Regions from separate parts of the Homo sapiens genome. Here all the other regions are reported to be linked to region 1. Evidence: microRNA targets listed by miRTarBase, many of them from high-throughput screens and not tested one by one. Region 1 holds a microRNA gene; each other region holds the end of a gene's coding sequence.
What was found. Region 1 holds the annotated microRNA hsa-miR-4322 (CUGUGGGCUCAGCGCGUGGGG, at 1,615-1,635, shown strand). A microRNA usually pairs through its seed, bases 2 to 8, with sites in the 3' UTR of a target mRNA and lowers its output. Matches are read on the target gene's strand: a 7mer-m8 pairs with bases 2 to 8, a 7mer-A1 pairs with bases 2 to 7 and ends in A, and an 8mer does both.

Region 2: the mRNA of PTPRJ is a reported target of hsa-miR-4322. Seed matches in the 3' UTR shown: 7mer-m8 at 2,604-2,610.
Region 3: the mRNA of KLHL12 is a reported target of hsa-miR-4322. Seed matches in the 3' UTR shown: 7mer-A1 at 808-814.

The regions. Positions count from the first base shown.
Region 1 is chr19:10,228,841-10,232,190 of GRCh38, forward strand. It overlaps MIR4322 (microRNA 4322), which reads left to right and starts at 1,573; the gene lies at 1,573-1,645. It overlaps S1PR2 (sphingosine-1-phosphate receptor 2), which reads right to left and starts at 2,491. Exons shown (of 2, transcript NM_004230.4): 1 at 2,364-2,491. RefSeq lists enhancers at 986-1,035, 1,116-1,195, 1,135-1,849, 2,996-3,045 and silencers at 1,376-1,425, 2,136-2,795.
Region 2 is chr11:48,167,041-48,170,352 of GRCh38, forward strand. It overlaps PTPRJ (protein tyrosine phosphatase receptor type J), which reads left to right. Exons shown (of 25, transcript NM_002843.4): 25 at 164-3,312. The coding sequence ends at 322. Among named protein-coding and RNA genes, the nearest start is that of OR4B1, 48 kb to the right of the region's middle.
Region 3 is chr1:202,889,811-202,892,810 of GRCh38, reverse strand. KLHL12 (kelch like family member 12) reads left to right here. Exons shown (of 12, transcript NM_021633.4): 12 at 152-1,691. The coding sequence ends at 278. Among named protein-coding and RNA genes, the nearest start is that of RABIF, 2.2 kb to the right of the region's middle.

The sequences.
Region 1 (3,350 bases):
GATAGACTCAGACGACTGTTTGTCTGGAGATTAGGAGAGGGGAAGGATGGAGGAAGCCTCAGTGGCTTCCAAGGTCCTCTCCACCCACTCCCAGTTCCAGAAAGGCAGGCCCTGTGGTTACAGTTCCCCCTGGTCACCCATGGAGCCCGTGGTAGCCACCCTACCTTTTGGTTTCTCTGTGGTTGTCAGGACCCCCTACCCTGCCATTCTCTACCAAGCAGCCAGGGGGAGCTTTTAAACTTGTAACTCCATGTCACTCCCCAACTCCAAATTCTTCCATGGCTCCCTATAGCCCAAGTAGGATGGCCCCTGCCGATGAAGCCTCCTCCCACTCTTCCCCCAGGGCCATTCCACTCCAACCACACTAAACCTCCTCCATGCTACCCCTACCCCTACCTCCAAGCCTTTACCCCTGCTGTTCTTCTTGGGGCACACTCTTTTTCTCAAAAAAAAAATTTTTTTTTTTTGAGACAGAGTCTCACTCTGTTGCCCAGGCTAGAGTGCAGTGGTGTGATCTCGGCTCACCACAACCTCTGCCTCCTGAGTTCAAGCGATTCTCCTGCCTCAGCCTCCTGAGTAGCTGGGATTATAGGTGCCTACCACCACACCTGGCTAATTTTTGTATTTTTAGTAGAGATGGGGTTTCACCATGTTGGCCAGGCTGGTCTGGAACTCCTGACTTCAGGTGATTCACCTGCCTAAGCCTAGGAAAGTGCTGGGATTACAGGCGTGAGCCACCACGCCTGGCCTTTCCTCAAATCTTTGAATGACTGTCTCCCCATCTTTCAGAAAGGCAGGCCCTGTGGTTACAGTTCCCCCTGGTCACCCATGGAGCCCGTGGTAGCCACCCTACCTTATAGAAAGTGACCTTTCTATTTAAAGGTCACTTCCTCAGAGGGGACTCCCCTGACCCCCAGTCTACAATAGCAGCCATCTCCAAGCCTTTTCTAATCACAGAATCTCGTTTTATTATCTGCACAGCGCTTGCCACTATGGGAAACTATCATGATATCTTTCCTTTTCTGTCTGGCTTCCACCTAGACAGTCAATGCCTAAGGCCAGGGAGCAAGTCAGTTATCAGCCCCTACAGGGATGCCTGGCACAAATAAAACACTCAGAAAACGTGTGGAATGGGCAAATGAATGAATGAATGAATGAACCAATGAACAAAGGAGACCCTAGTGGGTTCCCAAGGGTGGAAACTCCTAAGCTCAGCCCAGACCCAAACAGCAACAAAGGAGCCTGGAGACACCTCTGGTCCGCGGGCAGCGCCCCCATCGCCCACCATCAACCAGGCAAAGCCCAGCGTGTCTCCATGGAGATGGCAGCAGGACCCGACCCCGTGCTGGCCCGCACTCTCGGCCTCCTTATCTGGTTTAGGAATGCGCGGTATCCACGCTCGCTCGCGCGGGAGCCACGCCTCCTCTCCCCCCCGCCCCCGAGACCGCCACACGCGCGGGGCCCCCACGTCTCCAAGCGGCACTGGAAGGATTCCTCTCCGTCCCGCCAGGGGTCCCGCCTCGAGATTCTGGGAAGACTGGGGGTGGGGGACCAGATCGCAGCAGCAGCTGCACCGCGAGTTCCGCGCCTGGCCGTGTCGCCCCACGAGGGGGACTGTGGGCTCAGCGCGTGGGGCCCGGAGCATCTGACAAGGACAGAGACAGAGGAGGGGGTGGAAATCCCCGGGTGAGTCAACCCGTGCCTGAGAAGGGGGCGAGTTCCGACGCTCCGCCCGGCTCGGGGCCACGCGAGGTCCGCGCCACGCGCGCCTTCACCCACGACCCATCCCTGAGCCGGAGTTGAAAGAGGAGGCGTCTGAGCCACGCAGTCACTTTCTCTTTCCTTACAAAACAAAGCCACGCCCCCCGCCGGGGGACCGGAGGAGGCAAACAACTTGGGGAAACCGAGGCAGAAAGCCCGACGTCCGACCGCCCTCCCCGTGGGTGCCGCCCCTTGGCTTGGAGGCTCCACGGCGCGCACATCCTTTTGCCCTCGCTCAGCCGGAGTCAGCCAGGAGGGGTGTTGCCCCCCCCCAAACACACTCCCCAAGACCCCGGTCCCCGAGCACGGCGTCCTGCCTCCCAAAGACTCCAGTCGAAAGCGCTCGGATTCAGCCTTCTCCCCGGCGCCAACTTCCTGCCGCTGAGAAAGGCGGGGAGCACAGTCTGCGGGTTCGCGGCCGAGGCAGTGGGGGCCGCCCGGATTCTTGGAGAGGGCGCACTGTGACCACCCGCTCCGTGCAGCAGGAACCCAGGCGGCGCGTGCGCGCCCCAGCCCCCCGATTGGGGCCCCTCAGCTCGGATCCCGAGACCTCAGGGGACCAGGCCCGCCTTTTCTGCCTCCTTGTCGCCACGCGCGCTCACCTGGCTAGGCCGGCCCGGCTCCCGGCCCTGGCCGGAGGGGCCTTGGCGTCTGCGTCCCCAGGGCGGCCGCGGCTGGGGCTGGGGTTGCCAGCCGGGCTCGGCTAAGTCCCGGGGCTGGGACGAGGGACAGAGGGGGGGGCGGAGAGCCGCCGCCTCTGCCCCCCGCTCGCCCCGCCCTCCTCTCCTCCCCTTTCCGGCGGCGGCTGCAATGAATTCCAGATGTGACCGGCCGGCTGGCCGGGGCGCACGCGGGGGCCGACAGGAGCTGCACGGAGGGCCCTTTGTCCGCCCCCCCCACCCGATCTCTCACTCTGCCCCTCCCAGCCCCCACCCGTGAGAACCGGCCGGCGCGAAACGTCACGCAGCCTGGTGACGTCACAGTACTCCTGGCCAGGTGGCCTCAACCTGAAACAACTGTCTTCAACCCCAGGTTACCTCTGGGCTTACCCCTGGGACCCTGGACTTGGAAGAAAACACGAGGTCACATTTATTGACTCAACAAAGAGCCTTGGAAGTACCTACTAGGTGTCAACGCAGCAAATAGGCATTAAGTGCCTACTGTGTGTCCACCCAACAAATAAATTCCTACTAAGTGCGATGTCCTGTCCCAAAGACAAAATTGATCTCTTTTTTTTTTTCTTTTTTTGAGACATGGTCTTGCTCTGTCATCCAGGCCAGAGTGTGGTGGCTCAATCATAGCTCACGGGAGCCTCAGCCTCCTGCCTCAGCCTCCAGAGTAGCTGGGACTACAGGTGCGCCATCATGCCTGGCTAATTTTTTGCAGTTTTTTGTAGAGATGGGGTCTCGCTGTGTTGCCCAGGCTGGTCTTGAACTGCTGCATTCAAGCAATCCTACTGCCTCAGCCTCCCAAAGTGCTGGAATGACAGGCGTGAGCCACTGTGCCTGACCAGTCTCTCCCTTGATAGGACCTCCAGAATTCAGGTGCTGCCCTGTTTCCCTTGGGGGACTGGGGACACTCCACACTCT
Region 2 (3,312 bases), not on the chromosome of region 1:
GCAATGTTGTTACCTCTTGAAACATGTTCGCTTGAACCGTTTGCTGTTGGGTGGATGGGGTTTGGGAGTTGGGCGGGGGAATGACCTGTTTGAAAATAATTTTGGGTGCTAATTTCTGGGACCCATGTTCATTTTCTGTCTCTCTCTTTCGTTTTTCTATCAGGACCAGTATGTTTTCCTCAATCAGTGTGTTTTGGATATTGTCAGATCCCAGAAAGACTCAAAAGTAGATCTTATCTACCAGAACACAACTGCAATGACAATCTATGAAAACCTTGCGCCCGTGACCACATTTGGAAAGACCAATGGTTACATCGCCTAATTCCAAAGGAATAACCTTTCTGGAGTGAACCAGACCGTCGCACCCACAGCGAAGGCACATGCCCCGATGTCGACATGTTTTTATATGTCTAATATCTTAATTCTTTGTTCTGTTTTGTGAGAACTAATTTTGAGGGCATGAAGCTGCATATGATAGATGACAAATTGGGGCTGTCGGGGGCTGTGGATGGGTGGGGAGCAAATCATCTGCATTCCTGATGACCAATGGGATGAGGTCACTTTTTTTTTTTTTCCCCCTTGAGGATTGTGGAAAACCAGGAAAAGGGAGCTATGATTTTTTTTTCCAAAACAATTTCTTTTTTAAAAAAGACTATTTTATATGATTCACATGCTAAAGCCAGGATTGTGTTGGGTTGAATATATTTTAAGTATCAGAGGTCTATTTTTACCTACTGTGTCTTGGAATCTAGCCGATGGAAAATACCTAATTGTGGATGATGATTGCGCAGGGAGGGGTACGTGGCACCTCTTCCGAATGGGTTTTCTATTTGAACATGTGCCTTTTCTGAATTATGCTTCCACAGGCAAAACTCAGTAGAGATCTATATTTTTGTACTGAATCTCATAATTGGAATATACGGAATATTTAAACAGTAGCTTAGCATCAGAGGTTTGCTTCCTCAGTAACATTTCTGTTCTCATTTGATCAGGGGAGGCCTCTTTGCCCCGACTCCGCTTCCCCTGCCCCCTGTACATTTGTGCTCCATTTTTTCTTCCCTTTTCCCTCCCAGTTTTCTCCAAAGACTCTTCTGTTGGCAACATTTTCAACCCATTGGTTGGGTGAGAATGGCGACTCAAATATCACCTTGAGAATTTCTGTGGGTGGGAATGGGAGAAGCAGAGGAATCCTACAGTGGCAGAAATCCTTTTCTTGTCCCTGTATTATCCTTTTTCTCATGTCTGTATTTGGTATGAAGGATTATTTAAAGGTGCAATATGTGAATTAGTGATTCATGATGTTCTAGGTTTTTAGTAACGTTTTACTCAGGTTGGCATTTTATGTGTCTGTGTCTGTATGTGTGTGTGTATGTTCAGAAGCGTGGCAATCTGTGAACACTTCAGCGTGAATTCAGTGTCAGATTAATCCCTCCTTCCCCAAAGTCCACTGGCTTTCGTCTCTCTCTGCCGTGACACATATCGGAATCTACTGTGTATATATATATATATATATATATATATATATATATATATATATATATACACTAAGCTCTCAAAAACAGTCATTCCTATGAATTGAGGTGTACAAAGTTTGAATTTGTATCAAAGATGTAATTATTATTTTTAAAACCTTTTCACTATACTGCTGCTGTAATTACTTTGATTTTTAAAATGTAGATTAATTTTTTTTTTTTTGCTTCAGGTGTGTATCCACCAAGAATTTCAAATTTATGTGGATTTATTTTATTGGTACATAATCTGTAAACTTCTTAAGGCATTAACATGAAAAGATTTTTTCTTTTTATTTTATATTGTGGCTCAGGTTATATTTTGAAGATGTTTTGAGTTTATCCTCCAATAGGCAATGAAGTTGACAAGGTTTTATGAAGGAATAACCAAGTCCCTGGAGTCCTGTGGCTGTTGCCACAGTAATGTGTCCTGCTGTAAACAGGACAGGTGTGTCCTGTTGAGAATGTGAGCGGGCTCTTCCAGCCTCCTGGTCCCTCCTGACTCTGCCACGCCCCTCACCTCACTGGCACTTCGATAACTGACTGGACGTGTTAATGGGTCTTTTAGGGTTCTAAAGGGTGAACCACACTTTTAAAGCCCCGGCTGTGGTTCGGAGGGTTAGTGCTGTATGCCTTTTATTTCCCTTTCCCTTTGAGGTACTGAAAGGATGAAAAGGTGGTGTCATGTTTTGGGGAGAATCTTACTTCTCAAATGGAAATTGCACTTTTTGCTGAATCCTTTGCATTTTTTTGGTAGTAAGCAGTTCATTGAGTATCAGGTCCTCAAAGGAATGAGTTGGCCCGGCTAGGGTGGGCCCTCTTGACCTAACTTCAGAGGGGGCCTTGGCTCAGTAGGTGTGAATCAGGGAAGCCACATTGTCCTCAGGGTGCTGTATGAAGCTGGGTGTGGGCGGATTCCTCCCACACCTTCACACTGGCCTGCCTCCAACTCATACAGATCTCGGAGCGGTCGGTACTTCATTCATAGGTCCCTGTTCAGGCAGCAGTTCTGTGGGCTGTGGCCCTCTCCCCTCCAATATGTCCGAAACCATTGTGATGGGTGGCAAATCCCAGGGAGCTCCTAAGCCCTGCTCTGCCCACATCACTGCCACAGAGAAGTCAGAGGAAGGGACTTGTTGCTAAAAAATCCTTTAAAAGGTTAAATACTTTAAAAGATTAAAGCAACATAACTGTAAACATATTGTATAAAAATGAAAAACACAGGAACCCTCTTCCCTTCCGCCTGGTGTGGGCTTGGGAAATGGGCAAGCGGCCCCAGCAATCATGGGAGGAACTCTTGCGGGGGAGCGGTCTGGGATTCCAAATGGGCAGGTCACACGAAGGTCACGATGCTTCTCTGCATCCTGAAAAGGGCTGGGGACAGGGCCAGTGGGGGTGGTAAGGGTATTTATAGCACAGTGCTTGAAAAGGGAAGATTAATGTGTAAATATAAAGGACACACAGGCTGGGGGTTGGTCAGAGGCAAGAGGAGGGTGCCTCTGAGCTTCAACCCCTCCCAGGAACAATGAGCTCAAATTGGAAGAGTCCAGTGGAATCGGGGGGATGGTGTGAGCACCCCTGTTCAGTCTTTGACAATTGCATACAGAAAAGCAGCTGGTATGGGTTTGGGTGTCAATGAAAGGGCCAAAGACTGGTGGCCAGCTGGTTTGGGGGATTTGGGCCATTGATAGCATCTCCCAGGAACAACGACTTTTTGCCTCCAAAGTTGGATCTAGTGATGATCAGCACCAGCAGGAAATGACATTTGGTGTCTGCCCACTGCAGCCATACTGTGACCTCCAGC
Region 3 (3,000 bases), not on the chromosome of region 1:
CAGGGTCTCACCATGTTGCCCAGGCTGGTCTCAAATTCCCTCCTGGGCTTAAGCAATCCTCTTACCTCAGCCTCCTGCATAGTTGGGATTACAGGCACGTGCCACTGCACGCAGCTGACTCATTTCTTTCTTTTGCTTCTTTCCCACTCAGATATGATGGTAATTCCCTGCTAAGTAGCATTGAATGTTATGACCCTATCATCGACAGCTGGGAAGTCGTGACATCCATGGGAACCCAGCGCTGTGATGCTGGTGTTTGTGTTCTCCGCGAGAAGTGACCATTGTTGGAGCACCATCCAGAGCTAGTGACCAGTCCAGTGGACAGTTAGTGGGAGAATCAAAAATCCTTTCCAGAATGTCTGTTTCTCACTATGTGCACCGGGTGATTACAGGCACCAGTGCAGTGATGATTGTACTTATTTGACACATACTCCCCGTCGTCCTGGTTCTTGTTCCTGAGAAGGGTGGGTAACAGATATTCCAGGAAAAAGAATGCACATTGAATGGATGTGAGAGACCACATTGCCTCTCCCACTGCTTTGGGGAGCACTTTCCTGTCATTTCTAACTTACCACATGCTTGGTGTACTATATGTATGTTGTGCCTCATATGTTGCAAAGAACTAAGGTGAGTATAGCCTACTAGATATGGGCAATATCCAGCCTAGATGATTGGAAAGATACCAGTTTAAGTAAACTTGGTAAAATCCAAGTCTTTTTTTTTTTTTCCAGGAACAACTACATTTTCTCATATACAGGTAGCTAGGGGCAACACAGTTCCATTCTAGAGGGAAACAAAAGGGAGAGCCCCACAAAACTTTGGGGACAAGGGAGAGAGAGACTCATCTGACACTTCTTTTGGAGGTCAGGATTTGTATATCAGAATTGAAGTTAGAATTAAGTGAATTAAACTGAATTTGATTGTGAGTGAACCTAGAACAGCACTGAAGTATTACATAACCTGGAAGACTGAGAAGGGTATATTATTTGAAGGATCTTTTTATTTCCCCGAGGTCTTTCGCACTGGAGACAGCATAAAAGAGTGAACAAATGTTGGGATGAGAGAAGATGACATCAATGTGGGAGTTCAGTATAACTGGGGATAAACTAGAAGAACCTGTGATTTTACAGTCATCTTATTACCTGCCAGGGCTCATCTAGCCATGGCAATGTTTGCCTTGAATGGGGGTGAAAGCCTTTCTTTGTTGGATCAAATACTACTACACTATTACACTTCCACACTATTTATTTGGGGATGGGCTGGGAGTGACAGTAGCCTAGTAGTTCAGCTACCTGATTACTGCCCCATTCTTTTAGAAGCACATGTCTGCCAAGGAGTGGTTTGTACTGCTGTGTTTGGTACATCTAGTCTTTTTTCTGCTATAAGTTTTCCTTACCTGTCCTTTAGTGTAGATTTTATTCATCACAGGACAGAATAATCAAGGACAACCAAAATCCTTTTGTTAGTTTCAGTACCTCAGCTATCAACATTTCTGAGCTACCATTCAATGTTCCTCTGTGTCATGGAGTGAAATTCTTGTTTTGTGGGTATTAGGAGTGTGGGAATGTGATAACCTAAACAACCTTTGCTCTGAAATTCCATTTTTCCCTCTTTCCCTGAGTTGTATTGACCTACAGAGTTAATTTCCTTTGTATTTTTTTAAGAAAATATTAAAAATCAACGGTCTCAAATGCCGAGAGTTTGTGGCTAACCAACATTGCCTTTAGTAGATATTTGGGAGGGAAAGATGTAGGGATCAGCCGTAGCTCCTGTCTCTTCAAGCTGTTCATCTTGTGTGTTTGCCAACTAGTTCCGCTATTTCTATGTTAGACACAGGTAAGAGGTAGCCACTTTACACTTTGGAGATTCTCATCAGTAAAATATTTACCTGATTTGCCATATTCATTAGCCCCTCTGACGCTTGGAGTTACTTGAAAAAGGAATACAGAAAAGATCTTGAATTCACTTAGCACGCGCTTGAATTTCAGGGTTTCAGTCACACCAGTCCTTTTTTCCATTTGCTTTGAATTGTGGCATGTGATATAAACAGCTATGCGGAAGGCCTGCAAAACTGAAACAGTCCTGATGCTTCCAGAGCAAAAGGAAGGAGGAGCCACATGAGGAAGTTATTTTCCTTAAAAGATGCCTACCAACTTTGGCAGATGGATTGTGCATGCTAATTAAACCAAAGCCTATAAAACGTGACTTTTCCTATCTCAGGAAGAGATCCAGGGGAGGGTGAAGGACTGATGGCTCCTATGCTGTCTTCAGTGCTGACTAATGAGTTTCAGACCAACTTCACAAATAGTTCATACACTGAAGCCACAATGGTATGTTCTACAGAAAAATCAACACGTAAAACAGCTCCTTTTTCACTCTTCACAATCGTACACACTTTCATGTGCTCACATACATACACAGAGATACCCCTAATTTGGTGGTTCATCTTATTTTTTTAAGCTCCCATAACTGGCAACCAGCTACTTAGTTATCTAACCTGGGAAAACCAGCAGTTGCTTTGTGTCACCCCCATCACAATACAGACATCCAGCTAGTTTCTAAGTTCTGTACAATTTTAATTGTTTCAAGTCCATTCCCATATCTTTGTTCCCTCTGCTAGCTTCAGGGCCTTTCTGAGCTAGACTGATGAGGTAATAGCTACCTGATACCTTACCTCTACTCTTTTTCCTCTCTTCAATCTAGCCCCTCTATTTATTCATAGGTTATCTTTCTGAAGCACAGATAGGATCATTACAGTGCTTAACATACAGCAGACAGTAAATATCGAACAGTTATTTCTGGCCTAAAATTCCACAGATTCCCATTGTTCATGTTATTAATGTTAAATTCCTTAGCATGACATTAAAGCCATGGAGCTCTGGGCCCACTCTGCCTTACCTACCTCTACTACCACTTCTCCCCACGTGTAATGTGGGTCAGCCACAGTGGTCTACTAACCATTCCTAAATTTGTTCTCACCCTTGTTCATATATAATACTG